Regions from separate parts of the Homo sapiens genome. Here region 2 is linked to region 1. The links come from fine-mapping of genetic effects on gene expression. A gene starts in region 1. The other region holds a variant in brackets. All regions are shown on one strand. Distances are from middle to middle.

Region 1 (16,490 bases):
TTCAACTCTAAAATTTCATGATCCATTTGTCATTTTCAATTCAAGTACTTTCGGATATCGTGATAGCAAAAGTTTAATTTGCATTTAGAAACGAATATAAACTATGAGATTGAAGAGATAAAATGGACTTTTAAAATTAATGCAGCATGGGTATGAGAAAGAAAATAGAGAATGCTGTAGAATTAGGGACTTTTTCCCTTAGCACATTATTATAAGCTACCTGACAATACCATTAATTTTTTTTCCTTTTTACTCTACACAATAGCACATTCGTATGTCTGAAACTATAAGGATCACAGCCATAAGGCTGAATGTCAACTGTCAGAGGGCAAATGCGAATCGGCTACAACACTGGAAATCTGAGCCTGGAACCTGTAGGGTCACGTGGGGGTTATCTCACAGCGCTCACCTTCCACCAGTTGGTCCAGGCTGGAAATCTTCTTGAGCCCATCAATGGTGTAGATTGTTCTCACTCCCTGGGGCAAATTCACGTTATCCGACAGAGTTCGGGTCAAATCAGCCAGCAGGGCCTCAAAAGATCGGAACCGGTCTGGGGAGATGGCATACACAATCCCTTTGAAGTATCGATCTCCGTTTCGATAGAAACGAACTTTCTTGGCCTTCTTCTCGGAGCTGAGCGTCTGCAGCGTGCGGGTGCGGTAGAAGCTGCAGTGGGCGCTGTGCGTCGGGCTCGGCAGGCCGTTCACCCGCGACCCTCGGCTGTATCTCTGCGCCTTATCCCGCTCGTCGAAGTGCTCCAGCTCCATGTCTCTGCCGAAGGACATGATGGACTTCAAGTAGGACCTACGAGCCCCAGAAACAAAAGCAGACACACATATTGATGTAGGTTATATATATATATATATTTTTTTGTTTTTGTTTTTTTTATGTTAGGGACAGGGTCCTGCTCTGTCACCGGGCTGCAGTGAGATGGCACTCACTGAAGTACTCACTGAAGCCTCACACTCCTGGGCTCAAATGATCCTCCTGCATCAATCTCCCAGAGTATCCGGGACTACTACAGGTTACAGGTGCCTGCACCACGCCTGGTTAATTTCCTTCATTTTTTGTTCATTTGCTTGTTTTTAGTAGTAGTGATGAGGGTCTTGTTTTATTGTCCTGGCTGGTCTTGAATCCCTGGCCTCAAGTGATCCTCCCCCGCCCCCCAACCCCTTTGGCCTCCCAAAGTTTGGGGATGATGTTATTTTGAGATCATGATTTCAAAGGGTCTGCTTCAGAACAGCTGGGTGGAAATATTGCTTTAACTGATGACACATTTAATATGAGTTATCAAGTGGGACAGAAAGAGAAAGGGATGTGAATTCCCACAAAATAAACACAGGCTCCTCTGCACGCTGTCAGCAGAAGAGGCCGATCCCAGTGGAAACAGCTTATTAATCAGCCACAAATTTGTTAGAAGCAGCTCCTAGGTTGCCCATGGTTCATCAGGCTTCAAACAGATATTATTCCCAATAGACACAACAACTTTCCAAAGTATTGTCCTTCCTTACAAAAGAAGAAACTGAGGCACAGAAAAATTTCCCCTAAATTGCTCCAAGTAATACAGTTGAGAAATGCTTGTACCAGCAACTCTGTTCCAGGTTTCCCTGACTCCAAAGCCCACTGCTCCTTGCAGGGCAGAGGGCTAATCCTGGTAGCAGGAAGAAAATAAGCTCTCATATCATCATACAGTGAAAGAGAAGTAGCTATGGTGGGCTGGGACAGAAAGAGAGGGCAGGCAGCATAACAGTCAGATTGTAAAAGTTTTACATAATGTTTGTGTGCCCCATGGCCAGATGGAGAGCAAATTAAATCAATCTGTAGGTTGGACCAACTTAAAGAAGATTTTCCAACATATTCACACATTCAATATTTTTAAAAGCAAATTCACTATACTTCATTTACTTATATTTAGTACTTCAGAAAAGTTGAGTTTAAAAAAAGAAGAAAAAGGAAGAGAAGGAGGAGAAGGAAGAGGAACAACAAGAAAGGAAAAAATGTTTGGAAGTACATTTCTTGGTTCTTCCTTTCATTAAGACTATCTTTGTGATTGAAGAAATTGAGGCTTAAAGATGTCGATTTACACTTGACCCCATGCTAGCTGTGTAAGCTTGAAAAATCTACTTGCTCAGCATCTTTAAGCCTTGATTTCCTCAACCACAAAATGGGAATGAGAACAGTACCTACCTCACAGTCAGTATTAACTATTAAATAAATTCATGCACATGAAGTTCTTATCATAGTGTCTGACATGTGATAAGTACTAATTTTTTTATTAATAAAATCTGTTTTTGTGTTCCTGGCCCTGACACATAAAGAGCTAGCAGGAATAGAATCTTTCCTTTCTGGCAAGAGAGGCCCCTGCTTTCTTCCTGATCTCCATCTCATGACCTTTTGAAAGGTACATCTGTACCCCCTGGTCCCCACAGCAAGCTGACTGGAGGACCAGTTCATCCTTGCTGAGGGGTTGGTTGATAAAGGTTTGTGGAGCCTTGCAGGGGAATCTGTGGTTTAACAAGACAATCTAGAAAGTGGAAAGACCAAAGCATTCAAAGGAAAGACACTTTAATGACAAAATTTCAGGCATGTTGAAATAGAATATCAGGAAAATGGAAAATTTGGAGCAAGAACCTTACAAGCACTCCCCAAGTCCCACCATATTAGATGGACATCACCTTTCTGAAGGTCAGTGAACACTCACCAATGCACCACTGTCTCCCCAACCTTTCTTTGGCCCTCAGTAAACTGACCTCTGATCCATTCAGAGTGGCTAAAATTTCACACCTGAAAGCATGACTAGAGATTTGGTACTCCAGAAATGAAGTGAAAGAAAGCAATATTTACTGAAGGTCTAGGAGGTACCTGACACTATTACTCATCAACCAGTTGTATAATATGCTAAAAATTCTCTTCTAAACCTCATATTAATCCAACAAGGTAGGTAATATTATTAATATTCAGGTGAATATGGAATTTATCCAGGGTCCCAAAATTATAACTGAGGGGTTGAGATTTGAACCCAGATTTACTGTAACTCCAAAGCTGGTGTTTTCCATCCCTTGCTCCTTTGAAACTGGTTCCTCTTCAGCATGAGAAGCAGGATTTTGTAAGCCCTCACTCCTAACTAGCTCAGTGACCTTGGACAGGCCACATAACTGATCCAGACCTCGTCTGCACACAGAGGAAGCAGTGGTCAGCAGGCCTCTGATGTTGGTGATTCTATCTACCTGCTTATGGGTCTATTGCTGACCCCACTGAAGGTCTGGGGAGGGAGAAATGAAGTGTGATTTAAACCTGGAGTGTTAATGAGTTCAGTGTACTTTTTTCCCTCCAAATATGAAAACTATTTCTTGCCTCTTAATAACTCATAGTAGTCAGAATTTGCATTTTTCAAAAACAGTTATATATAGGCAGCTCTGAACTGGTTTCATTGATTTTGATGTTAGATAACTTTAAAACAATGATCCCTTGATATCCAGTCCTGTAGGCATTAGTTGTTAAACAGAACCAATTTTTGTCCAGGATATTGGTAACTGCTCTTACTTTTTAATTTATATGGTTTTAAAGTGAGCTCTCTTGTCTTCTAAAAGGGAGTGTGTCTTGGGGGTGGAGTGGAAGACACTCCCAGTACTCACACCAACTCACTAAGTTCTTCAACATTTTGTAAATTATAAAGGCCAAACTCACTTTTGAAGTTTGTGTTTTATTCTTAAAGGCAGTGATCATTCTCCCAACACTAGGAGTTTGGGGATTTCCTTCCAAATTGATATAAACTAAAAGAAAACAAGCAGGGCCATAGGGAAGGATGGCACAGTTCTGTTACCAGAAAGAGTGCACATCGAATTCTCAGTGACTGACAATTGGCAAAGGCCAAATAATTTGGCAATAGTTAGAATTCCCTGGGGGAACGGGCTTTTAGGACCAAGAATTCCCACACCAGATGAAAAAAGAAGAAAAGAACAATTTAAAATAGAAAAAAGGTTTACTTTGTTTCATTTTATTTGCATATTTCCTCAAACTGGATCACAGGTTCATCCAGGGCAGGGCTACACCTTTTACTTCCCTTCCCTGAATCTGTCCAAAAGTGGGCAATGGTGTCGACAAAAGAAACCATACTCAGAGTGAAATCATTTTCAAGGCTACAGCTACCTCTAAATGGAGCACACTCCACACCCTAGTGTGCTGGTAATTATTCGTGGCAACAAAATAGGTGTTCTTTCCCTCACCTTGGCTTAGTCATACATTTGAACCATGCATGAGCTTCTGAAGATCCACTGGCCTTCCACAGGTTTACACTTTCTGCACAGGAAGGCTGCGAGAACACACAGCTCAATGTTCAGAGACCATAGGTGGCCAAGGGCCTGAGTGCACATGTGCAGTGGCACCAGGATGGTAACCACAGCACCTCAGCCACAGCGACCACAGACACTGGAGGTAAGAAGGGCCACTGGCTCTCATCAGAGCTTTTCCTATAAATCCTGCCATTTCAAGAAACCAACATCCCTGATTGTTCTCGGTGGGATTTCTCACCATTTTGAGGAATCTATGTTCATCCTTCTCTAGATGAGCACATGGTTCTTGTTTCAGAAATTTACACACATATATACCAAGAAAAAAATGGCATAAATGCTACCACATCTAAATAGATGCTGGACCTGGAAGTCCCAAGGCATATTTTAACCGTGGGATTAGGATTCAGGTGGACTGGCATGAAATAAAACGCACACATACCTTCCAGGCCCGTGCACCACCACGGACGTAGACATCACAGGGTGTGTGCATATCTTTTATAATTTTCCTCTATATGACCTCTCTTAAAAAATCCCTTCTGACCTGCATCCATGTGACATTTCATACTTAAAACGCTGTCCTACTTTCCTTTCCCACTGAAAGGCAATATATTTAGGAACAGTCATAAAATGTATTCACGGAACAGCCTGCAGTGTGGTCGCTGAACGTGTGTGCACCGTGCCTGGACACACTCACAGGTGCAGCAGAGAGGGAGCCGGTTTGAATGAAACCTTTCATCTTCTCTCTCACCGACCAAGCATCTCCTTGCCAAATCCAGGAGCAATTCCGCGCAAACCTGGTTTTCAAAAGCAGCCTCTTTTGTGGGGCATTGCGGGGCTGTGCGTGCGCTCCCACTAGGAGGAAAAAATGCCATTTCCTCTCCGCAAGCTTTTAGCACTGCAGGTACTAATTTGAACATGAGGCAGCCTCGCTGTCCCTGAAGGAACTTGAGACCCTGCAAACGTACTTGCAACACCCACGCTGCAGCCACCACCACGCACGAATCGACCCCATCCACAAGCACACATCACTGGCCCGGGCACACGGAAAAGCACACACACAATAAGAGGCCGGGCCCGGCCACTCCTTCCTTGGTTCCCGCTCCGCAGCCAGTTCTGACAATGACAAGCACCTCTCCCAGCTCCTCCGCCCTGGCTCTCCATCTCCACTAACAACGCGAAAAGCCTGGGAGGGCCCGCTCGCCTGACTCCAGGTTTAAAGCCCCATGGCACCAAACAAAAGAGGCAGGTGCCAGCAGCCCCGGGGCCGCCCGCACGCAACGCCCCCGGGTCGGGCCAGGCTGGCCAGGGCAGGGCGGCCGCCTTTCGAGGAACTGCGGGCGGGGCGGCGGGGCCAAGCTGAGCGCCCGCCCTGCCCTCGGCGCCCCGCGGCTGCGGGCGGAGCGGGCTCTGCGGAGTCCCCCGGCCGCCCTCCCCGCAGCTCCCGTCCCCAGGGAAGGCAAACCACGCACCGGTCCGCGGAGAGACGCCGCCGGGGGTCTTTGTGGCCGCGCTGGGGGCCGCCTCCTGGTGCTGTCCTCGCCGGGCTGGGCGCGGCCGGGGCTGCGGGGCTGCAGGGCTGGGGGGCGGCGGCGGGGCCGGGCTGGGCGGCAGCAGCTGCTGGAGCGCGGCGCCTCGGTTGCGGCCACTAGTGCAGGGATGTGCCTCGGCCCGTCCTCATTGAAATGCGGCGCTTCGCACAGCCTCACTCCAGCCTCTCTCTCCAGAGGAGGGCGGCGGCGGCGGCGGCGGCGGGCGCGCTCCCTTTTCTTGTCTCACTCGCTCACACGCCCTCCCGTCTCCCTCCTCCTCCTCCTCCTCCGCGTGCGCGCCCCGTCGCCCCCGCCCTTCTTGGCAGGGCGCACCCACCACGGCTGCGCCCCAGGTCCTCCTCCCTCCCAGCGCCCTCTTCCCACCGCAGCAACCTCGGTGCATCTGGCTTGACTACACCCCTAAACCTCCCTAGTCCCCACAAGTAGTCTTTGGGAGATGGGGGCAGATCAGATGGTGGAAGAGAACGTGGACAGGGCTGAGTCTGAGCCAGGAAGTGTGCAAGGCACAGAGGTGATATGGCCGAGAGATGAGGCCCCCACCGTCGGGGGAGGGAAGGAGGTACCCACACTCATACCTTTTGATGTGACCTCACGGTCTGACACCTTTCCCAGGGTATGGAAGCCAGTGGATCACCTTCTCATCCTTTTTGCCCGGGATGCACCCACGCAGTGCCTCTTCGGATGACCAACCCTCCCAAGCTATGCACTCTGGTGCCCCCCACATTGGGAAGAGCTGGATCTGTTCATGGATCCCACCCATCATCTCCACTTAACCCCAAGACATGAGTCACTCTTGGAATAGTGACCTCTGCTTAGAGTCAAATATGTTCCAAAGGGCCCTTGAGAACTGAAGGGCCAGGTTTCACTGCTGGACACTTTGTGGCTGCCAAGGCTGGGTCTGCGGTGGAAAGCCCCATGAGCTCATGCGAGCCTCTCCTCCCAGAGGGGGAATGTTCTCCTAGCCCAGGCTGTTCACAGCTTCCTCCAGTCTTTGCACAAAAGTCCAGGGAGTGGGAGCAGCTCCCAGATTTCGGTGAAATCTTAGACTGGCTCAGTACGCAGCCTGAATTTTGATCCAGTTAATCTGACTTTCAATCCTGTCGTCCACAACCTGTGTTTGTCCCAAATACACATGAGTATACAAAATACACATAAGTATTTTTCTCTCTTCCTGAGCCTACACCTTTCAATGGAACATTAAAATTTTATTTTTCTCTTGCCCATTGATCCCAGTTATGTGTTTGACTACTTATTATTAAAAAGTTCTATTCTGAAATACTTTCCAAGTATGATGTAAATGTTAAATAATTACCATTTGTTTTAAAACACAGCTCAAATGAGATCCATGCTACATATTCCACAAGTGATGCGATATTTATTTTTGAACTATTTAATAGCCCAGAGATGAGAGTACAGTGAACTCACCAAATTAACTAAATGCAAAGTAGTAAGCCTATTCTTTCACATTCTGAGGCAAAATGAGAGCCATAGGGGTAAATTAAGAGAAAGGAAGAAGCCAAGTACATCTTCTGGAGAACAGAAATCAGAGCTTCTTTTTATCTTGCCAATGACAAATGCCAAGTGATTTCTTCCAAAATGCTAAGCCAAGAAATAAATTTCATCTCTTAACCCCTATGGATATTCTACTAGGGTCATTTCTTAAGAGCTTTAAGTAACTCACCATCATCTTACCTCTTCCTAGCTGTTGTACCTAGCACACACAGATAATGTGTTCAGAGAATCACCTTGGTGTTTGACTCTCTCAGTAGCAAAGTGCTCTCACTAGAAATAGTTGGGCATCATTAGCTCTTTAAGGAAACCAGGGGGCAACTGATAATTAAGTAGATGAAGACATTAAATAGTATACATTGGCCCTACAGTATGGTCATATCATTTAGTCCAGGACAGCAGGCTGGTACTAAAGTTCATTCCAGGGCAGCTTAAGCATTTGGCAAATCTAATTTATATTCAACAATAATTCCTTATTGAAATGAAATCTAACTAGAAAACTCCTAATTCAAGTAATTTTCAAAAACGAATGCTACTTCCTTTATATTACTAAGATATTGATCAAAGAAGTGAATGGAACTAATACATCCTTTCCCCCAGGATCATCTGAAAGTATTGGAGATCTCATTCTAGCTCCCAAAAGCAAATGCTATTTAAGCTGTACCCCAACTACCGCCCCAAGCAGACACAGCTCTATATCCTACAGGTTGAAAATGACTAGGCCTCAACTCTCTCAGTGGCTCCCATTAATTTAGTGCTTGCTTTTTGCCATGCTGGGGGCTTTCATACATTTTCTTACTTCATTCTCATAAGAACCATGCAAGGTAGGCATTGGCATTATTATCCTCATCTTACAGATGAAGGAATTTAGACATAGAGAGGTTACATCATTTGCCCACAGTCATGTAGCTTAAAAATGTCAAGCCCAACTTCAATATTTAAAATCGGTATGTTTTAAAATTCAAGTCAGTTTTTCAATTGCTAAGGCCATATGCTTATAAAGCAATACCAAATTCTAGTGCAAAGTGTAATCTTTTTTGGAAAATGCAGTCTTTTAATCAAAGAGCTTATTACTTCATAACAGAGAGTTAACTCCTTGCTATCATGAACACTGCTTCTTTTAGTGATGGATCCCCTCAAATGTGTCTTTGGACTAAACTTCTCATGAGGACATTTGCACTTTAACCTCTGGCAACGAAGAGGATGGATAATCTTATCTAAGTGTGCTTGTCTTCCTGAATGTAAGGTTTTAGTGCAAACCAGGAAAGAGACAGAGAACCATTATTCTTCGGAATAATACTTTATAATTCACCATGTATCTTTTTTCAGGTTCTTTTCATTGGCTTCTTCATAAACAATATGCTTAATCATGTAGATGCGAGTAGAACTGTAGAATGAGAATATGAGCAGGAAGAGATACACTTCCTGTTTTTCCCTCTAGGAGGAAGAATTTGCTCTGGCTCATTCATAATCTCTCCTCTGTGGCTATGGGCATATAGTGCTCCTGGGTTGGGAGACTGTGTATATGTAGTGGCTGCCACAATTGTGAGAAGCAGCTTTACAGAACATAATCGTCAGTCTGATTTTCCTTTGTATTTCTTTTCTTCTGAAGGCTCTGTATGGCATTTCCTGATAGTTTGTCTAATTCCCTCTAATTACAGAGAACATACTTCTGGCTTCTACTAGAATCACAGAAACTCGGTGATGTCAGACCTTGGCAGAAGCCTATCAATTTTTACCCAGTGCATGAATTCCCTCCACAACAAGTTGTCTTCCAGCCTCCATTCTGTTGCGTCTGTGGCAAAAGTGAAGAGGAATAAGATTATCCCTTTGAGTGTTAGGATAGATCATGGAATTCTAGACACAGTAAATGAGATCTTTAAAAATAATTGTTTTAACTGGCTGTTTACCTTTGGTTTGGCCCTCCAAACATGCTGAGGTCCAAACTACATGAGATTCTGGACCTACACAGAGGAAGAAAGGCTCCTACTACTCTCATAGAACCTCTATAAACTAGCAGAGAGCTTCTGAAAGCTCTTTTCTTCGTTTCCTGCCTAAATGTAATTTGCTTTAGTAAAGGGGAACTCTGCACAGCCCACTCCCCTGCTGGACAGCTCCTCAAATTCAACTAAGATCCACTTCCCTGGAATTTTCCTGTGTACCCTGGGTCTACCCTTTAGACCTGTGGAGAACAAATCAAATGGTCCTGGCTTTTGCTTGACAGTCTCATTACTTTCTCCCAAATTTGACTCCTCATTAACTAGGAATCCTCAGCCCTTCAACTGCTTCTCATTTGACATCTTTGGAAATGCTCACAGCAGTGCAACTGTCAGTGTCTCCCTCCACATCTGCCTCCCGGAACTGGGCATGGCACAGCAGGGGTGGTCTGACTAGGGAAGCTCCATGACTTCATTGGCTGTTGACACGGTGCTTCCATTATAGGAAGCTAACGTCTAATCAATGTCTCTGACAGGCATGCCATGCTATTGACTCATCCAGTCAATAAAAATCTCCATGCTTTTCACATGTTTTGCTCTTAAGACCACTCATTCTGCATTTGTTTAATTAGATTTGGGGGACCTAAGTCCAGTGCCCACTTGGAATTTTCCTTTATTAACCTTGCGTATTGTTATTTGCTCCCCCATTGAAACCTGTTGAGTGAGATCCTTTTGGATCCTAATGAGGGCGCATTATACTTGAATGATCCCTCCAGCATCCTATCAGTCTGATTAACACTGCACCAACATCATCATCTCAGTTGTTGATAAAAGCTTTCAACAGAACATGGTCACAGCAGGCTCCATCACCTTACTGCCCACGGTCTCTCTCCAGGTTGATGGCTGATGGCCAATGACTCTCTCAACGTACTCAAGTAATTAGAGGTTAACATGTTCTCTCCAGAAAATAATTATCTAGAGATCCAGTGATAGGAAAATTCACATTTTTATATGAAGGATTATATCCTTGACTTCAATGCCATTTTGAGGTCATGAGTTTTACAGACCACATAATTTTTCATTCATTCATCCATTCATCTAATAAGTAATTTTTGAGTGTCTCCAATGTGCCAGGCACCATGCTAGGTAGAAGTAATACAATCATGAGATAGAGTTACAAATATCCTGTGCCCAGGCATTGGTAGCTTGTAGGGAGATTGGATTAAACCCATACTTACACAAACAATTATTTAAGTACCGTGAAGGAAAAGAACACAAATAACTTCAAGGAGAGTGTTTCTTCCCCGAGGAAGTAACATTTAAGCAGAGACCTGAAATTTGCCAGGCAACAAGGGGGAAGGGCATTATTCCAAGGAGAAGAAATAGCTGAGTGAAGACTTTGAGTGGGAAGCAGCTTGTTCAAGGAAGAAGAGGTGGGCAGAGTGGCTGGGGCACAGGCAGACAGAGTGGAGAGAGGCAGCTGCAAGAGTGGGCAGGGGACAGCACCCCACATCCTGAGGGCCTTATTAAGGAATGTGGACTTGTCCTAAAGAAAAGGAAAATCACTGAAGGATTTTAAGCAGAGAAGTGAATCTGAACTTAGTAAAGTATTCAAATCTGCAGAGTTCTTTAAGTCCATAGATTAAATATGGCATCTCCAAGTGAAAAATAAAATTATGTAAAATTACAGGTTATTCTTGATACAAGGATTTCAGAAAAATAAGAATGTATACTTACTTATACATTCTATCACTGCCCCAAGGAATGGAGTAATTACCCCAAAATTATGAAAATTTTACTTAAGGATCCTAAAATTAATCTCAAAAATAGTCACCTTTGCTAAAATACATCTTGTTTTTTGTTTTTTTTTGAAACAGGGTCTCACTCTGTCACCCATGCCATGAGTGCAGTGGCATGATCACGGCCCACTGCAGCCTCAGCCTCCCATGCTCGAGTGATCCTCCCACCTCAGCCTCCTGAGTAGCTGGGACTACAGACACTTGCCACCAAACCTGGCTAACTTTTTTATTTTCGGTAGAGATGAGGTCTTACTATATTGCTCAGTCTGGTCTGGAACTATTGGGCTCAAGTGATCCTCCTGCCTTGGCCTCTGAAAGTGTTGAGATTACAGGCATGAGCCACCATGCTAAGCCCTAAAATGCTTTCAAATAGAATTTTATTTAGCCACACTCTTTGTTCCAGAAATTTTTTAGAAACAAATAATTTACTTTTTATATTTATTAATGTATACTTATATTAAAATACTGTATGCTACTCTGTTAATTATATTTTATATAATTATATTTTCTGAGAACTCTCACTGATTCTATAGAATACAAATATTTAAGAAGTCACAATAGTTATGTAAGTCTTCTAAGCATGTAGCAGACCTCACCTGAAACACCTGGGATTTTTTAAATTAGGGGCTTAGACAATAGTGTTTGTCCTTTTATAAAATACGCCTGTAGACTGAATAATTTCATAAGTAAAGTCAAAGAGTCATTGGCAAGTTTTTAATGTATCCCAAGGAGTCTTTTAAAATTTAATTTAATTTGTAGAAGTGGATTTTTAAAGGTATCTTTTAAACAAAGAGAAAACGTACTACATTTCTGCTGTTGATAATCTTTTAAGTGAAAAAAATCAAAATATTTTTGGTACATATATATTCTAAACTTTTTCATGTATATGTATATATACCAAAAGTGTAGCTTTAAACAGAAAAATGTAGGATGCTAACAGATGTAATGTATTGTATTATAACTTCTTTCATTTAACAATTAACTCAAATGTACCATAAATCTAAATGCAAAAACTGACACAATAAAATTTCTAGAATAAAATATGGGAAAAACATCTTTGTGACCTTTGGCTATACAAAGGTTACTTAGAGAAGACCCAAAAACATGAAACATAAGTAAGAATTAGCTAAGATGGCTTTTATGAAATTAAAAAACTTTTGCTCTTCAAAAGACACTGTTAAGAAAATGAAAAGGCAAGCCACAAAGTAGCAAAAAAAATTTGCAAAATATATATCTGATAAAGATCTTGCATCCAGAATAAAGATCTCTTACAGCTCAACAGGGAACAGAACAAAAAAAGGGGTAGAAAGGCAAAAGATTTGCACAGACACATCACCAAAGAACACATAAGAATGCCCAACATCTTTAGTCTTTAGGGAAATGCAAACCCAAACCACAATGAGATGCCATTGCACACCCAACAGAATAACTAAAAATAAAAAGACTGATGATACCAAGTGTTGGGGAGGAGGTTGAGCAGCTAAAGCTCTTCATCATCCCTATTTGGAATATAAAATGATATGATTATTTTGAAAAATAATTTGCCAGTTTTTTTTGTACCTACTCTATGACCCATCAATCCCATACCGAGATATATACCCAAGAAAAAGAAAAATATGTTTACGGAGACTTGTATTTAAACTTTTTTACCAGTTTTATTCATATTAGGTAAAACAACAACTGAAATAAATATTTACTGGTGAATGGATAAACAAACTGTGGAATATGCATACAGCTATTTAAAAAGTGGAACGGCTGATACACACAACATGGGATCTCAAGGTATTATGTTCAGTGAAAAAAGACAGGCACAAATGACTACATGCTGCATAATTTCATTTATATGAAATTCCAGAAAAGGCAAGAAAACCAGATCAGTGGTCACAGGGCTAGAGGTGGGAAAAGATTGGTTACAAAGAAGCATAGGTAAAATATGTGGGATAATGAAACTTCTATATCATCATTGTGGTGATGGTTACATACAGGTACCTATTTGTCAAAATCTACCACATTGTACACTTAAAACAGGTCAATTTTATTGTATGTAAATTACAGCTCAATGAAACTGATAAAAATGTCCATACACCAAATGCAAAGTCAAAAAACAAATGATAGGCTGGAAAAAATATTTGAAATATATGTGACAGACAAAGATTACTCTTTCTAACTTACAAAAAGCCATAGAAATTTATAGGTAAACATCAAGCAATCTGATAGAAAAATGAATAAAGTGTATGCAGTTTTCCACTTTAGAGTTGATGCAAATGGGTATTAATCATATGGAAGGATGCTCAACCTTATTGAAAATTCAGGTTGAAGTAAACAAGGCAAACATGAGATGCATTTCCCCTCATCAGCCTGGCATCTATTAGAAAGACTGATAAAATATATTGTTAGCTAAAATATGGAGGAAAGGACACTCTTATACAACAGCTATAATTTTTTTGGAAAGCAAATCGCAAACAGCCTTTGATCCAGCAAGATCTATTCTACAAAAATAAAAGCACCAGTACAAATAAAATTGTGTCTAGAATGTTCATTGCTGATCTTTCCCTACCATCAATGGTAAAATTCTGGCAGGAAAACTACTGTTTATAAATAGAGAAATGGCTGAATAAATTGGAGCACATATATACATACTACAGAATAACATGCTTCTATTAATAACATACGACTTAGGCTACATATATTGACGTGGAGGAATATGATATGCTGTTATATGAAAAGGCAAGTGGCAGAAATATTTATAGTATCATCTCATTATTTGGTAATGAAGAGAAAGAAAGAGAATCTGTATTGTGTATCTGTTGGCATATAATTGTATGAGCTTACAGAGCTAAGGATAAACATGCATCCAAAAGTGTAAATATTGGCTGCTAAGGAGCCAATAGTGGGGGAGACAGATTGTTGCCGTTTTCTTTGTGTATCTCTATGTTAATGCCCTATCACATGAACACTTTCTGGTTTTGTAGTTTGAAAAGAAAATAGTTTGAAAAACTGCACAAAGAATGAAGCATATTCCCCTCCCACTGCCCCCCACCCAGTGCTCAGAACTTTCACAACACTAACCTAGTACGCATGGATGTGACACCAAACTCTGAAAAACTCTCCTACCCTTCTTAGTTCTAATAAAATGTGAGGCCAAATGATAGAATATATTGTTTTTATAAAAATCAGTGGGTGTGGTTCAAGTAACAAATACACACACAAAGGGAAAAAGAACTCAAATTGGCTTTACCCTGAGAGCACTGAGCTTTAGTTTTCATAGCCTCCCAATGCAGGAAGATTGGAGACAAAACCTAGAATATGCTTATCATGAAATGCTGAAAAGGAAACCCCATACACTGTCAGAGAAAGGGTGCCTATCTCAACATTTTGTTTTAGGTTAAGGAGGAAAATATTCCCTAAGAATTTAGGTATACACTCTGGGCCTCATGTAGGTTTGCAGCCTAAATTCATATACTCCTGGTGACCTAAAAAGCCTTGAAGCTCTCAATTCAGTTTAAAATGGTTTTCAGGCATTTAGGAAAAGTGAACAAAGTCCTCACTGAAGAAATACATCTTCAAGCCAAGTCTCAAAAAATTCCTACTAATATACTTCTAAAGATTATAGGCTAATGGTGAAGAAAAGAAAGGAGGAATGGGGGAGAGGAAGAAGTAGAAGGGGGAGGAGGAAACACTTAATAGATTAATAAAGAAAGCAACATGAGTATGAGCTAGAAAAAAGTAAAAAATAGAGTCAGAATTAAAATGACTTCTGATAATGGTATTATCAGACATGGGATATAAAAATATATGCATGTATGTAGTATGTTTAAAGTAATAGAAGAGAGGATAAAGATTTCAAGCCAAGAGCAAGGGATTTTTAAAAAGATCAATAATATTTGGAAAAAAGTATCAAAAAGAACTTGTAAAAATTAAAGAAAACAACTGAAATTAAAATTTAAACAATGGCTTTTTCAGCAGATTTGATATAGCCGAAGAAAGATTTAGTAAACTGGAAATTAGATTTAAAGAATGAATCCATAATGCAACACAGAGAGACAAAGAAATGAAAGATACTGAATAATAGTTAGGAGTCATAAATAACAAAGTAAAAAGTTCAAAAATATGTCTAGAGTCCCAGAAAAAGAAAGAGAGAGAAAATGGGTGACAGAATACTTGAAGAAGAAATGGCTGAGCATTCTTAAAGAACTGATGAGAAATATTAAGCCCCAGATTTATGAAGTCTAAGAAAATCAAAATTTTATCAAAAAATTTTAAAAATAAAATTGACATATATACTATTAGAGTGAAACTGAAGAGCACAAAACCTGAAGAATAAGATTTTTTTAAAAAAGGACCAATTATAGTTGGTGCTCATTATTCACAGATTCAATATTTGAAAATTTGCCTACTTGCTAAAATTTATTAGTAACCCCAAAATCCATTCTTGCAGCACTTTCATGGTTATTCAGGGAGATGCACAATGTGGCAAAATATCTGAGTTATCTCATACATACTTTCTAGCCAAGATCAAACAACACAACCCTCTGCCTTCTTTTATTAGCTCTTATACTATAAACATTTGTCTTTTTCACAGTCTATTTAGTGGCATATTTTTCGATTTCTGTGCTTTTTGTTGGTGATTTTGTGGTTTAAAATTCTCCTCAAGCATAGTGCTAAAATACTGTTAGTGGTCCTAAGAACAAGAAGACTATGATGTGTCTTTGGGGGAAAATACACATGTTACAGAAGCTGCATTCAGATATGAGTACAGTGCTGTGGTCTGCAAGTTCAATGTTAATTAATCAACAATATAGATTAAATAAGGTGTTTTTAAACAGAAACACATACAAAACAAGGTTATGTGTTGATAAGCTAATGAAAATGTTGTGACCACATGCTCATGGAACCTCACCTTTTATTTTCTCTAGGAGCAGTGGTTCAATATTTAATAATTCAGTGTTAACAGTGAGTTTCTAGAACACAATTACTGCAAATAATGAACCTAGGAGGAATAAAATGGAAACCAGAGAACAGTAGAATGATATCTTCAACATGCAAAAAGAAAATAATTATCAACATAGAATTATGTACCAAAGAAAATCATTCTCAAGAATAAGGGTGACAAAAAGATATTCTTCAGAGGAACTACAACTAAAAATGTTTACTTTCCATAAATTCTCACTAAAATTCTTTAAAATGTATTTCTAGAATAAGCAAATTTTAATTGATAAGTATAGGGTATATAATTTCCAAAATAATACAGAAAAATAATATAATTTTTAAAATTAATGTAAAATAAGATATGAAAGGAAAGTGAAAGAAACATAGAACAAGAGGAACAATTATAAAGCAGAAAATAAGATGCTGAAAATAACCCAAATATTTTAGTAATTACAAAAATATAACTATGCTAAA
Region 2 (16,490 bases), 640 kb before region 1:
TGGGACATGTGTATAAATATACATTATCCTAATTTTGTATAAATATACATTATTATGTAAATGTAGATGGTTACAAATACTCTAAACCAAGAATTATTAAATTATAGGAGTGAAGACATTGATAATGATGCTCTTTCAAATATTTTGTCTTTTTACAACTTGGAATAGTACAACTAGTCTTTTATTTCTTCCCCCAAGATATACAAATTATTTAAATGCTTTCTGTTTTGTATTTTTATTTTGCAGTTACAATAGAAATTTTAATGTTATGCATGCTTACAGGCCTATTAAGAAAGAAGTTATTGCTTTCTTAATAATCTCAAACCATCTTTAGGAAATACACTCTTTTTATGGTTTGCAAAATAGCCCATGCATGCATGCAGGCTGTGTACAGACACACACACACACAAAAACACCAGTGTTTAAGATAGCAAAAGATTGAATTGGCCTCTATACATTTTCCGTATTCATCTGTTAAAAGGAAACAACCACTAAATATTGGAATCTTGTTGCCACCAGGAAGTAATATCCACATCCACAAGTTTGTCTCATAATAACCCTTAACAGTTTTTGATAATACCTGAAGAGACTGTACCTAAATGGATTTTTAAAATAACACGGGAAATTCCAACAGCATGTATTCAGTCACATATACTACGTCAACTTTGAATGTCATAAGCTTTTAATTATGAAATTGAGAAGTTTATTGCTAGCCATTTTGTCCATAGAAAAAATTTACTTAAATATTTACCTACATTAATATGTGTGTGTGTGTGTGTGTGTGTGTGTGTGTGTGTGTGTGTATATATATATATATATATGTAGACCCTCACTAATTTAAAATTGTTTTTTACTTTTTTGCAACAGACCAAGTTTAAATTTTTTGCAACCTTAACCTGCATTTGATAAACAAAATGTATAACTCTTCAGGGGGAAAAATGTGGGATGTTTTGTTTTTTGTTTTTTACTGGCAATTTCAGTTCTTCATTTGTTTTGCTCTCCACGCTGCATTAGCACAGTTTTCCCCTGTGTGCATCTGCCAGTGTACAATTTAGCCACGGGCATCTGTAGACCTTGTGGTGATCAGTATTGCAGGCAAAAGCCATATGTGTTTAAATAAAAAAAAAATCTCTTTATTTCATTTGCTGTTTTAACTGGATGGATAACTTTTGTGCCTCAAGACAGAAAAAGAAAAAATACAGAAATAATTAATTGCCTCTATTCTTGAGGCAGTTTCATTTCCCCTCCAATATGGAATGCTTGTCAGCTTTCCTGATAAATGACTGCATGTATTTGCATAGATTTTACATTAACACAAAAATTAGTTTTATTTGTGGAAAACTAGTTTACATAATAATATAAAACCCCTGTTATTGATTATGTTTCCAAGCATTGATGACTTTAGAGGGGTGGTAGTATTCTAAATTTTCAAAAGTCTGATCAACCTGTATAATTTAAACTTTCTTTTGATAAATAGTTTTACATTAAGATCTAAAAGACATATTTATAACATTTTAAAGTTTTAAAACTTCTTTTCTAGATATACTTACCACAACTGTTTCAGACTCATAGTAGCACCCATTTGGTAAGAAGATTTTGATTTTGAACTTTTGCCAAGGAATATTTTTAAATACATATTACCAATTACGTACACTTCAGCCAATTGGAAGACTGCATCTATATGAATTACTTTAATTTTCATATTCATATTATGAAAAAAGATGGGTGCTATATTGGATGTGTACAGTTTAGCTAATTCTTGGGAAGTTATGTATTATTTACAACCAAATTTAAAATATATCTGAGAACTGTCCTCTCCATCTTTAACCTATTTCCTTCAATATACTTAATTAATCACCCAGCCCTGAAAAAACCACTCTGCTGGAGCTGTTAGGGTACTGAAAACAATTCTACCTCTCTAAGTGGCAGGCAGTAGATGTTTATTCATACTATAATCTGGCATCTTGTTGTCTAGAGGCAACCTGCTAATTATGTGCTATCGTTGTATTATCCATGTTATGGAAAATTCAAATATGTTCACTACTGTTAGTTACATCGCAAAGCTTTTCGTAAAATATACTTGATCCTCAAGAAACCTACTATACTTAATGGCAACCTAAACCAAGAGTGTCTCTGCCACTTCTTGATTCTGGGACACCCTGGGTGCCAGCTGTCACAGCTCAGCTAATGATGACAAATGCCCCTCTCTATGCAGATTGCAGAGCTTGCAGGCTGCTGTGAAAGGCAACCAGATTACCTTTCTTCAGATAGTAACTTAACCTTTAAAACTCATGTCAGAATGAAATGATCAGCTGTGATAGTTTCAATATCTGTATCTTTAAAAACAAAAATCAGAATAATATCAAATAATGCTTTTAAAAGTTTCCAGTATTTGTATGATTTACAGTGTTTTACCCTTGAATGCTGTAATATTCTTAAATAAGAAACTCTGGGTAAGACATACTTCACAACCACTTTAGAGTGTGTATTTGAACTCTGCGTATAAATCAGGTAATAGGTAATTGAGAAAATTCTCCAGATTGTTTAGTCTAAAAAATAGGCTGATGAAATTTTGAGGGAAAATATGTTCTTCTCTTCACCTGAATGAATGGTAAAGCCTCAATTCTCCCACTGCTTGTACAAGCCTAGCCTGTCCCAAGCCAATAGTTATATTATGTCATTAAAACTTAGTTATTCCAAAATGATTTAGAGAATAATTGTTGCTAATGATTGTTTTCTCTGGGTATTTTCAAATATGATCTTTTAAGTTATTAATTTGTTCTATAGAAATTTATCATATTACAGAACCTATACTTACATGGATTATTCAAAACAATAATGAACACCATTAACCATAATGTAATTCAGAGGGATAAATTACCTATTAAATGAGATAATGCTTTACAATTGCAACATTCTTTTCAATTTACAAAGGATTTATATCCATTAATTCATTTGATACTTAAAATAATTCTGAGCTGGGAAAGATGGGTGACAAGGAACAGGGACCAATATTTAATGAGTATTTAATCTCATTTAATCTTCACAACAAATATTAGCTCCCATTTACAAATAAAGAGACTGAGGTTTAGAAAGGTTGCATCTTACCAGGGTCACACAGGTAATTGCAGAGCCAGGTCTGTCTGACTGTGGCTGCCATCAGCATTACAGTTTCTAGACTACATATGTCCATAGCCAGATATAATTCATAGAAACTGCTACTAGGCTTGCATTTACATAAACAACATAATTGATGAGTTTTAAAGATAGGTTCTTTATAGGATGCTTTTAAATAGGTAAATACTGAGATACTTTTATGTTATAAATTTTAATTTTATAAGGATAATGTATTGATCTATCACATTGGGAGAAACTATTTAGGAAAGATATGTACTGTTTACTGAATATCAAATTGGACTAATTCACCTAGATAACCACTTCATTGTAAAACTTAAGATTAATGGGATATACCTTTATAAATGTGATGAGGAGAAGCAATTATTTCAATAATTACTTGAGTGAAATATTTATATACTTTTCTTTTATAAAGGTTTATCCATATCATAGTTTTACTATGTAATATCAGTGAGCTATACCACCCACAATATTGTTTTTCAGCTCAAGACACATTGAAAACTTCCTTTGATCATGAATTTAAGTGCAGTCATTTCCAAGAAAGCTATGCCAATGCCAGTTGTATTTATTCTGTAGTAAATTATTCTTTGGTATAGATACTAAAATGTGAGGAAATTTTTTCAATGATACATATGATTATATTATTATATAAAGACTATTTTATGTACTGATTAGTAGAATTATATTAGTACTTATATAGAATTAGTACTTATAGTTACTAATCAGTACTTATGCTCAATTTGTATTTCACTCTACATAAAAATTAAAACTTACAGTGAAAATTTTACTAAAATGTGTCATGCAGTTAGTATCAGGGAAAAAAGTAATTCTGCCGCATAAGTCAGACATTTTATATCAGGGCAGGAAAGAACTCTGGAGGATAATGCAATGTAACCCTCTTCATAACTGTCTGAATCTTCTCTACACCATTACCAGCCATGGTAACAACCATAGCCAGAGGTGGTTATCTAACCTCTACTTTTACCTCCATGAATGAGAAACTTACTACCTACTCAGATAGTTAATTGCACTTACAACAGTTCTAGTGGTTAGAACGCTCTTCCTAATATTGAACCAAAATATTTCCCCTTGAAACTTTCACCTTCTGGCCCCTACTTTCCCTTCTGAATAGTATTATCCCTTTAACAAATATATGCTTTTTAAATTCAGCATTTCAGATACCAAGTTGAACATACTCCAGTCTTTCAGCTATTACACCTTTGGCATCTTTTAAGTCACCTCACTGTTCAGGAGCCATTCTGGTACATGATTTTCTTCAAGTACGGTGCCTAGAAAGTATTACTCCTAGAATGGATTGGTACATGTAAAGTGGAGAATAATAGCGAAACATGGGTCACATGAGCTTTTTGGGCATATCCATACCCACGCAGATAAATGCTGTATGTCAACAAATATCTTATTTGTTTAAACATATTATTACCGAGGTCCTAAGTACATGACTTTTGTATTCATCCAACTCATATCTTGCTATTTTTAGGTATTTTTTCCGTGACTTGACTTATAATAATAAGTTATACATCATTATTTTAAGAATCAATAGGCATAACAGTTCTTTCTAAAAATGTGTTCATAAGCTACACATAGAATATTCAGAGCAAAACAATCTAACTTTAATGAATTTAATGTTTTTGCTCAGTTTAAGTGTAGAAGGAAGCTAATCCACTTAATAAGACCTCAGGATACATTGAATTTACTAAATACTCCACAGCCTTCGTATAGTTTTTTTTCCAAATATTTAAAATCCTAATATTAGTTTTTCATAGCTTTATCGAAATGTGTAACTAAGAAGCCTCATTTGGGATAAAGTATATACTTTATGTATTTTGGCATTTATCAATTTTGCTTTGTCAATAAATTTTGTATCTACAAATGAAATCTGCAGGTTTCCCACATGCTTGATCAATGACTAGCAAACTAATAAACTTTCAATGCAAATAGATGTGCTTCTAGGACTTGTAGACTGTTATAGGAATCACCAACATATTGATCTACATATTTTAACCTTTTGACAATAACAAGAGTTTCTAAATAATTTAGCATGAGCAGAGGTAAATACTTTTAAAAAGTGATATTTTTAATAACTTGAAGCCAATGTGAAAATTTGTAAATTAAACCAAAGTAGTCACAAGACCCATTATGCTCAGTTGTTTTCTTCAAGTGCAGTGCCTAGAACTGAATATTCAGTATCACAGAGTGAACTGGTGAATGTAGGGCAAAGAGGCCTCCCTTAAGTATTAAATACATTGTTGGAAAAAACGTATTCTGAGAATTCTCAAAACACATTTGAGAAGCAGTAGTAAAATACAAAATGCATTTTAATATATATTAATTAAGTAATTTGTAAAATACAAAATACATTTATGTCTGTATGGGTGGCAAAAAAATTGCATTAACTTTTTTGTGTTAAAGCCTTGAATTTCTTTAAGTGCAGGCGCATGTTTTTATTTGCCAAGTTTTTTTTTTAATGAGGATGTTTCATTACTACTTTATTTATTACTGCTGTGACATCTAGGCAATAAAAGACAAAGACAGCCTGCCTGAAATTTGGCTTTCTTGCAGTTTGTATCTTGAATGGGGAATAAAGAAGTCCAGTGCGTTTACAACAGAAACATTCTCAAGTGAAGAGCTGCCCCATCTGTTTCATCTGGTGGCTTATGCAATAAGAGGTGTTATCACATGAATCTAAATGCACAAGCGGTCGTTTTATGAACTCTTTCTGTGCTTTGAGGAGTTTATAAGTTGCCTACTCTATTGTGTATCAGTCCCAGCTGACCCAAGTGCATTCTGCTGGGCATATTTGGGGGATAATTAGAACTAATGAAGCCTGGAATACAGCTAATTCTCTAAGTGATTTATTCTTATGCTCTTCTCTGATCCCTAAGAATTCTCCAAATCATAATCTATGCCACTTATTTTTTCCTAGCATTGTGTTGATACAGCTACTTTATGCTTAGCTGATGGACATCAAAAGTAAATTCGGTATTTGAAAGGCTGAGAAACATGTTTCAAAGTAAAACTTTACGTTACTTATTAGTCCCCAGGCTTGAGAAGAATGCCAGTTCTTCAACATTTTATGTTTTTGTTTAAATCTCAAAATGTTTATGGCACTTGCAAGTAGATAATAGCATAGAAAATATAAAGCAATAAAAGCTCATTAAAAAATGTACCACTGGGAAATCAAACCTACAAGTAAAATAATTGAAAATTATTAATGGAAGTTTCCTATTTCTTAATTAGGTTTCCCAAGGAAATCTGAAGTTTAAAAAAAACTTTATGAATAGCTTTCATGTTCCAAAGCTGTTTCATTAACCTGGCTTCACTGTCCTAGCAGTGTTGAAAATGATGTTTCTTTACGTGCCCTCACCAAGTAGTCAGTGATTCAGTGGCCTGTAACGCTGTAAATCCCATCAACTTGCTTTCCTTTCCTGTTATAACTGTTTCAATGAGTGGCACTTTTGTTGTGCGGGTTCAGATCTGGTAGCTTACTGAGGGCACACTAGAATGAGGACAGACACAAATGCCAACAAAAGAAGGCTATAACTTTATTAAAGCCTTATACTCAGTAAATAAGATAGTGGAGCCACTTCAGCTAAGTAGTTTTATAAGCTATGTCCTATTTGATCTTCTGTTGTCTAGAAACTATAGTAGAATTTATTAAGAATTGTTAGTTTTACCTATTGATTCCAGTGTTTAATATTTACCATATTCTAGAGCCCAGATAACAAAACCCTTAAGGGCAAGTACCACTTTATTAGTTAGACATACTGAAATACCTGTACTAATGTAGATCACCAACTAGACTGATTATCAACCAAAGGACCAGTTGGAGATTCCTGAATCTCATTACAGGATACCTAATCCAGCCTCAGATAAATTCTAGTCTTAATTGTATACCCTGACGTAAGAAGTTACTGTTTCTCATATTTTACCTTCTGCCTAAAAGTCAGCTAAACACTCGAAAACATGTCTTAGGAACTTGATGAAAAGTTGCAGGTCATTTTTTTAAGAACATTTTTACATCTTTAAACAAGACAAAGAACAAATTGGTAAAATTGGCTAAAACTGAGTTTTTGTTATTTGCAAGTTATTCTGCTAGGTGCTTTATCTATATTACTGTATGTACCTTCATCTTCTCAACACTATGAAGTAGAAACTTCTGGCCTCATTTCATTGTTAAGAATCTGAAACACAGAGAATTCAAGTAACTCTTCCAAGTTCACAAAGCTAGGAGTTAGCAGAGTTAAGATTTTCATCTATGCCATCTGGCCCCAGGCTCCAGAGTGTGCTTTCTTAGTCATCATATAGAACCTCTCTAAGTTTGTCTTGTCATCTGTAGAACAGGGATAATTCTGTGTCATAGGGTTGTTGCACAGGTTAAATAAATTAATACACATAAAAGTTTATGTGTTTTAAAAAGAATATTTTTAAACTTATATTACCCAAGACCACACAGTAACTAGCAAAGATAGGACTCAAACCCAGCTTTTTCTATCTCCAGACTTCTGAGTTTATGTAGCATCATGCTTAGGTATGTTTGTTGAATGAATAATTAAATGAATATCATCTGTTCTGTACTTCCCAGTGGAAGATTTTGTTAATTTTGCTGGTTATTTTGATAGCATATAGCAGGTACTCAGTGCCTGAATGAGTGAAGGATTTTTCAAACAATACTCGCCAATATAATATGTTCTATACATTGATCACTCTTAAATTTATATCTCTAGCCAAGACCTCTCCCCTTAATTTCAAGCTGGTATGTTCAGTGGTCTTCTCCACATCATCTCACATATATAAGATGCATTTCAAACTTAGATTCCCAATTGAGCACCTGCTTCTCCATCAGTCATCTGTACCTCAGTAAACTGCAGTGCCTTTTTTCCGGTTTCTTAGGCCAACAAC[A/G]TGGCTGTCATCTTTGACTCCTCGCTTGCTTGTGTACCCAATATCCAGAGTGTCAACAAATCCTCCAGACTCTGCCCATCTCTCACCAACTTTACAGCTTCCATCCTTGCAAGCCACCATCATCTCTTAATTTATTTTTGGTGCCCATTATCCTGTATGTGTACTACTGGTTATCTGAGGCAATATAGAATGAGAAAAAGTACAAGGAATTATGCTAGGGAACATAGCTTCTCACTAATATTCCTCTGTGAGGAATATGATCCAATAGGAATAAATGAGAAGGAATGTTCAGAAAAGTAAGGCGGAAAACTAACAGATATGACTATCTTAAATGCCAAACACAAGAGAGTTGTAATAAAAAGTTAGTGGACAACAGTTCAGCTACCACATAGAGTTCAAATAACATAAAAAGTTCTTTGTCTTTCCACATCCGTATCAATGGAATTGTAGAGACAGAAGCAGATCACAATAGGATTGAAGAGTAAATCGGAGGTGGAAAGTGAGGTAGACAATACACTTTCAAGAAAAGTAGGATTGAAGACTATTCTAAGTGAAGTAACTCAGGAATGGAAAACCAAACATTGTATGTTCTCACTCATAAGTGGGAGCTAAGCTTTGAGGATGCAAAGGCATAACAATGACACAGTGGAGTTTGGGAACTCAGGGGGAAAGGGTCAGAAGGGAATGAGGGATAAAAGACTATGAATTGGGTTTAATGTATACTGCTCAAGAGATGGGTGCACCAAAATCTCACACTAAAGAACTTACTCATGTAACCAAATACCACCTGTTCCCCAAAAACCTATGGAAATAAACAATTTTTAAAAAGTAGAAATAAAGGAAATGCAAGAGATAGTATGGTAATTATGAAGTGATGCAAGAAAAAATTTTAAAGGTATTTGAACATATTTAGGGCATAGAGAAAGAAGCCATAGAGGAGAGGTTAAAGTTAAAATGAAGGACTAAATCATGGAGGTCTCTCTATCTCCAAGATCAGTAGAAGGAAATGGTATCATTGTCTTGAGGCTACAATGAGAGATGGCTTTTTTCCTTGAAGATAAACTCTACACAATTATTAATATTGCATTTTATTTTATTCCATATGTATTTGTAACAGTGGAGGGTGAGATGTTGGGTTTAGGATAAACAGGTGGAGATCTGAAAATGTAGCAGGAAGAAACTGTTGCATTGTGGAAGATAAATTTGTAGATGGTGGTTTTTAAAGTTGGTGGATTATACAACTAGGCCTCAGTTTTCTCTTGGCACTTAAAGCACTGGGACTGAGGTAAGCTTCAAGAAGGGACTTAGATGTTTAAACTGTCACTAAAAGGAATGGGAGATAACGATGCTGAATCCTGCTTTACCTGGCAACCCTAGATGAAGGAGAAAAGTAGATGTAGTAAAATTTCTAAATAGATAAGTGACTGAGATAGCTTAAACATAGGCAGAATAGTTTACTAAGCGGAATATGGACACAGGCATAGACTGCTGAAATACAAAGAAATCAAAGAATTTTAAGATTAAGGTACAGAATAGATTGTCTATATGAATACTGAATTCTCTAAAAGTGATTATAAGATTCTGGGTGGAGAGGGAAAGAATTTTGGGGAAAGAAGACCCATGAAGAGTAGAATGAATGCTGTTAAGTGAATGGAACAGGAGACAATCTGAGTCACCAGAGCCTGCACAAAACAAACAAATGGGCCTAAGAGGGGTTGCTGGGATTTTGGAAGCCAAAAGATAACTTGATGAAATCCTTTGTAGCCTAATGCTTTGAATACTTTTGAGAGATTTGATAAGCAGTTTTATCATCAACAACTAATGATATGGGAGTTTATTTAAATTTATTCCTGGAGCCAGGGAATTCATAGACTCTTATTTTAAAAGACCCTAACATTCCATATGAAAGTGTTTTTTAGGTGTCTGCCCAAGTGATAATCCACTTTAGTATATCTGTTTCCAATACTACCAAAGTGTCCATCAGGATATTTTGGTAGGACCTAGTCATATGTTTTATTTGAAGTATGTAAAACTGCCAAAGATACTTTACTCTTAAGTGTTTTCATATCATATAACTTTCTTTAGTTTCCCAGTAGAGTGAGGAAGCCCTCCATTAGGAACCAGAAAGCTTGGGTTTTAGAGCTTGCTCCTTTTTGAATAGAATATACAATCTTTATTAATGAGCTTAGTTTCCTGCCCTGTGTGATGAAGGCATTGGAGTAGATGATTTCCCTTCTAAAATTCATTCAGTTCTCTGTATTATTTAACTTTGAGATGAGTACAAAATAGCAGCAGTTTTACCTTTAAAGGTGTATCTCGTCATGTGCAACATATACCTTCCTGAAAAGTTAGCATATTTTTATTATTTGAATTATATTTAAATATATCTGTGAATTTATTCTTCAAAGGATCCTTACAATAAATCTTTTAAAAATGAATTCATTTTATAAATTTAATGATTTCTTTATAATGTATAATTTCAAATTTAAATCTTTAGTTATTAAATATTTTTAAAAACAACTCTATATATTTGTCTTTATGTAACTTTATAAAGGGTATAATGAATATGAATATAAGGAATACAAAACCAATGATAAGTAAGAAAATAGTAAGAAAGTAATTAATCACTTTAAATGAATTCATGACTTCAGGGTACTAACAGAATTTGGAGGTTTGATTGAAGGACCAATCATTGTTGAGGAATTACAGAGACAGTGAGATATGTCAGAAGACTAGATGAGAGCAAAATATTAGAGAATTTTGCTTGGCACCTTCTGATCAACAATGGTAACAAAAATGTGATTAAGACTTAAGGGAAAAAGTCAAGTCTGCCTCAAATCCTGTGGGTAAGCAAATAAGATCTAAATTTTTGAAAAATAAATCTGTAGTCTGATAAATTAAGATGTATTAGGTTGGTGCAAAAGAATCGTGGTTTTTCCCATTACTTTTCATGGCAAAAACTGCAATTACTTTTGCATCAACCTAATATATTGTAAGCCCTAGAGCCATCGCTAATAAAATAACTAAATAGATGTAGTTAAAAAACAAGTGAAGGAATGGCAAAAGAAGGCAGTAAAGGAGGAAGAGGTGAACAAAAAAGATATGAAAGATACAGAAAACGAAAAGCAAAATATCAGATGTAAATCCAACCATATCAATAATAGCATTAAATGTAAATGGATTAAACAGTCCAATAAAAAATCAGAGACAGGTGCAGTGGCTCCGTAATTTCAGCTCTTTGAGAGGCTGGGATGGATGGATCACTTGAGCACAGGAGTTTGAGACCAGCCTGGGCAACATGGCAAAACTCCATCTCTACAAAAAATAGAAAAATTAGCTGGATATAGTGGCACATTCCTGTAGTCCCAGATACTGAGGAGGCTTAGGTGGAAGGATCACCTGAGCCCATAGAGATTGAAGCCGCAGTGAGCTGTGACCACACCACTGTGCTCCAGACTGGACAACAGAGTGAGACTCTGTCAAAAAAAAAGAAAAGAAAAGAAAAAAAAATCAGAGACTGTCGACTGAATTAAAATAAAAATAAGATCCAACTCTGTGCTCTCTACATACAACCAGATGCTGTTAACTATGTGTTTTGACCCAGTTTAGGTTCAAAGATACAGATAGGTTGAAAATAAAAAGATAAAAAAAGATATGCACACAAACAGCAACCATAAAAGACCTAGAGATGGCTACAATAATATCAGATAAAATAGACTTTTACACTAAATAAAGCCACTACATACAAAGAGAAACACTTTGTAATCAAAAAAGATTAGCTTATAGGGGAGTTATAACAATTATAAATATATTTGCACCTAACAACAAAGCCCAATGTCCATAAAGCGAAAACAGATAGAATTGAAAAAAGAAATATTAAATTATCCAATAATAGTTGGAAACTTCAATACCCCGCTTTCAATAATGAAGACAATAACTAGATGTAAGATTGACAAGGACATATGCTCCTCAATTTACAAGGGTGTTGCATCCTGACAAACCCATCATAAATTGAGGAGTGTATTTTATATGTATCATTTTTGCACCACTGTAAAGTCAAAAAATCATAAGTCAAACCATCATAAGTCAGGGCACATCTGTAAATAGAAGACTCAAACAACACTATAAACCAACCAGACCTAATACACATCTGCAGAACACTCCCAAGAACAGCAAAATTTCTTAGTGCACATGGAACATTCTCCAGGATAAACCATATGTCAGGCCATAACACAAGCCTCAATAAATTTAAAAGGATTAAAATAATACAAAGATTTTTTGACACAATGGAATTAAAAATCTTTCTACAGTTGACAAACTGAACAGCAAATACTTTGGATGATAGGCAAGATTCATAAATGATATAGAAACCATGCCATGTGACTTGAAAGAACTGAGGCTAGTGTACCCAACTAAGGAGTCTAATTTGGATGGTAGAGATGGGGATGAAGTAGGATATAATAGTTTCCTCTAAGAAGCCTGTCGTTTATAGCAAGGAGAATATTAATATGTATACATGACCTTCCAGAGGACACAAGTAAGATAATTGGGTGGAAGTTACAGCACAAAATAAGGAAGAATATTATAACTGTACTTTTCAGTTCAGTAAGATATAGGCAGTATTGTACTTCCCTTTTTAAAAAAACAAGGTCTCATTATGTTGCCCAGGCCTGACACAAACTCCTGGGTTTAAGGGATCCTCCCACCTCAGCCTCCCAAGTAGTTGAGAGTGACTAGAGTCACATGCCACTGTGCCTGGCTCTACTTTCATATATTGTGTTCCTTAAATTGGATTTTTAAAGTCCTATGTAGAAAAGCCAAACAAGGCCAGGTGTGGGGGCTCACTCATATAATCCCAATACTTTGATTGGCTGAGGCAGGAGGTTAGCTTGAGCCCAGGGGTTTGAGACCCGCCTGAGCAACATGGTGAGATCTTGTCTCTAAAAAAATGAAAACCTTAGCCAGGCATAGTGGTGCACACCTGTGGTCCCAGCTATTCAGTAGGCTAAGGTGGAAGGATCACTTGAGCCCAGAAGGTTGAGGCTGCAGTGAGCGATATTGTCACCACTGCACTCCAGCCTGGGTTACAGAGTGAGATTCTGTCAAAAAAAAAAAAAAAAAAAGAATAGAAAAGAAAAGAAAAAGAAAAGTCAAACAGTGGTTTTTAATAGCTGTTCTTCTAGCAAGGATAAGTTTAATTCCTGCAATATGTCTTTTCTCAAAAAGTCAAGGAGAAGCCTTAATAACTGGAGCAGCTTGGTGTGCAGGCACCTCTACCGCTCCCAGGACTGGAGCTAGAACTTAGATATTGAATCAGGACATCTCATGTCTTTCTCAACAAAATAATGCTCCCTTCCCCCAAACAAATTTACCAAACTCTAAATATATTATTGCACAACTTCCTTATGGTTTGGAAGGAACTTTTTCCTAACTTTATCAAATCTAAAGAACCATGAAGCAACTCTTTCTCCTAAGTCTATGCTTCAGTCATAAGCACTGTGAATTACGCAAATAGCTTAGTTAGATATGTAGATGAGTTAAAAATAGAATCTGCAAAACAAAATGCAGATTGTACAAAAATTAAGGATATGATCACCAGTCCAGGATCACCTCCAATAGGTTATCTCATAAGCTGTGAACATTGCCACTTAAAGTGATTCACTCAGGGCCTAAGGAACCTTCTGTAGGAGAAATTGAGGAAGTGCTTATACTCTGTATGATTTCATATACACATACAAAAAAGTGGACTGAAAAATATAAATCTATTTTGCCAGATGTTCTTAACATTTATATTTATCTGCATTAAAACAATGTTTTTGTTACTGGAGAGTGGAATTTTCAATAAGATTTTAATAAGAAAAATTATTTCATTTGCTATATTCTCTCAGAACATAAATTACACTGTAGCAGTAAGTTAGACTTTCTTTCATACTCTGGAAGTACATTTTAGCATATTATTCTTCCAGTAAACTACCTGATATCTATAGAGTGCTGAAGAAGTTAGCAGCCAGATTATTTGGTTTACCTACAAGAGATTAATTTGCATATCAGCAAGGTCTGCATAAATCTGGGTGCAGTATCTTTCAGTCTTTTCTCTGTTTTGTAACACTTGACCCATCAATTTAGATAGTACCTTGCCTGAAGTACAAAAATGAGGAAGACATGTATATTATCTCTTTTAATGATAGGCAAATGAGGAATCAACTCTTACAGGTGTCTGGGAGATTTCAGACTATGTATTTATAATCTTATTTAATATTATATAACCAAATATTTTTATGCCTTTCCACTAATTTTCTACCAAATGCTTAAAGAGAGTCTATTTAGAATAAAAACCACTTGAATGGATTATTTATATTAAGAGCTTACTAAACATTCTTTGTAATATTGGCTATTATTTTTTACCTTGAATGTGTTGCTTAAATTTGGACTTTTTCTCAAACACTATTGGTATTTTAGTGGCAAAATTATTTAATGGTAGATGTTTAACATTGGAGATCTTAGCATGTATTGATTTGCACAAAAATTCTATTCTTTAAAGGTCATATGTACCAAATTTCATAAAGGAAATGCATTGGAGATGCTTAGTAGACATTTTCTTAGGCACTAAGTATTACTTGCTTATAAGGATATTTTACTGTTTATGTATAGGTTAAATACTTCACTTGTAATGTCCATCTTGTAAAGAAAGTCCTCTCTGTGTTGAAAATCTCTCATTGCTAATCTTGTTTTTTTATATGTCCAGTAAGAGTTACCAATATATCTTTCATGAGCTATGGCAAATCATTGATAATTACTGTTCAATTTATTCCTCCCTAGGCAAATGGGTTCCTTTGTAGTACCTAGGACAAGGGATCCACAGGCAGGAGTCCTCTGGCATTGATGACTGATGGAATAAGCCATAGTGACACATAGCTACTATACCACATGAGAGCATCATGATTTGTTTATTTTAGAACTGGTTGTAGCAATATTAGAGGATGAAATGATTTTCTTAAAGCACTAGGAGAGTGGGGACTACATCATCAGGATAACTTAAAGAAAAGCTGCTCAAAAACAAAGTGTCCCAGTCTCTTCAATAAATTGTATTCTCTCCTTGACTATTTAATTTATGCAAATGCACAATGAAAATATTTTTGCTTCATATCTGAATCTTCATAAGAAAATGTATATTTAAAAATAATAAAATCATATTTTTCAGTTATCTACATTAAATCTTTTATTCATGTTATAGTTTAATTACATGATATCTGTCTTCACCAATGGAAATGTAATGTGCTAAATGCTCCATTAATTTTTTCCCCTTATACCTTATGCTCAGTTATGCCTGGTACAAACGACATATACTTTTCTGATATTATTGATGAGGTGTTCATGACCTTTCTGTTGAGATTTGTGTGGTGGTGCTGTTTAAAGAAAGAGTACTTAGTGGAATTTGTGTGACCACACCAGGCAATTGAAGAATAGGTATTATTTCTGGCCTTGGTTCTATAACCCAAGTTAATTATAATCACTTTAAGAAGAAAACAGTCTTGCTATAGCAAGCTGTTTTGGGTTTTCTTTTTCTAAATGAGAGAAAATTGATGTGATGCTTTTTACATTGCATTTTACAGCAAAGCATAAGATCTGTTTACCTGGTTGAAATTCAAATTGTTTTATTATGGTGTCAATTCTTTGGTTTTGGCAGCACTTCTAAAGTGTCTATTCACAAAAAGACTCCCATAGTGAATGAATGCTAGTGTTGACACCACCTAACAAGCAGGGATTATGTGTTTACAGAAGAAGTAATATGATAGGTCAAGTATAAGAGGCACTTCTCAAGAGCACTTCAGCACATAATGAGTGACTGACTAGAAAGTGCGGAGCTGCCACTCTTTGGCTTGGAGTCCGTGTTGATGCCTGCCTCTCTTCTCCAAAGCTCTCTTGATCATGTTCAGCTGCTCTGTTCTCATGTGGGGAATAATAGTAGAGTAAAGCTGCTTTTCTGTCTCATTTTTCTTGCTAATTTACACATTCAAGCCATTTTTTGTTTGCTACCCTTATTTGCTATTCCCTTTTGTCCAGGCACTGTTCTCTTTTTTGCCTCAGGCCTAAGAACTAATTTGAGCTTCTATAATTACTTCATGTTTTACACCTGTCTGCGTATCATGCACCCGCTTGTCTCTGTACTTAAGCTGTATATTTCCTTGCAGAAAAGCTAGTTTTCATATACAAGGACTCCTAAGTTTCTCCCCTCAGACTGCCTACAGAAGAAACACAATTAAACTGTTGCGATATCCTCAGCCATGCAGCTGACCTTTGCAGTTCATGAAGGACAAATGAACGCTGTCTGCTCAGACAGTTTGTGTTAAGACATTGTTGAGCAGAGAGCCTGAGCTTTGTTCCTCATGAATGAAGCAATGGTTGTAGTCATTTTAAAATCATTAAGACTCTGA

Which allele goes with the higher level. Alleles are on the strand shown, and positions count from the first base shown. SD is a standard deviation of normalised expression in the study named.
For the expression in vagina of the gene that starts at base 6,030 in region 1, A is the low allele of the variant in region 2 and G is the other (large effect, 1.0 SD a copy in GTEx).

What was found. PIP is the estimated chance that this variant, and not a neighbour inherited with it, causes the effect.
Region 2: its variant is fine-mapped to the expression of DCLK1 in vagina (GTEx, PIP above 0.99).

The regions. Positions count from the first base shown.
Region 1 is chr13:36,125,353-36,141,842 of GRCh38, forward strand. DCLK1 (doublecortin like kinase 1) reads right to left here and starts at 6,030. Exons shown (of 17, transcript NM_001330071.2): 1 at 5,762-6,030; 2 at 410-804. The coding sequence starts at 785.
Region 2 is chr13:35,483,473-35,499,962 of GRCh38, forward strand. All of the region lies in intron 41 of NBEA (neurobeachin), which reads left to right. Among named protein-coding and RNA genes, the nearest start is that of MAB21L1, 15 kb to the left of the region's middle. RefSeq lists an enhancer at 15,305-16,490. The variant A/G (reference allele first, on the strand shown) is at 8,056.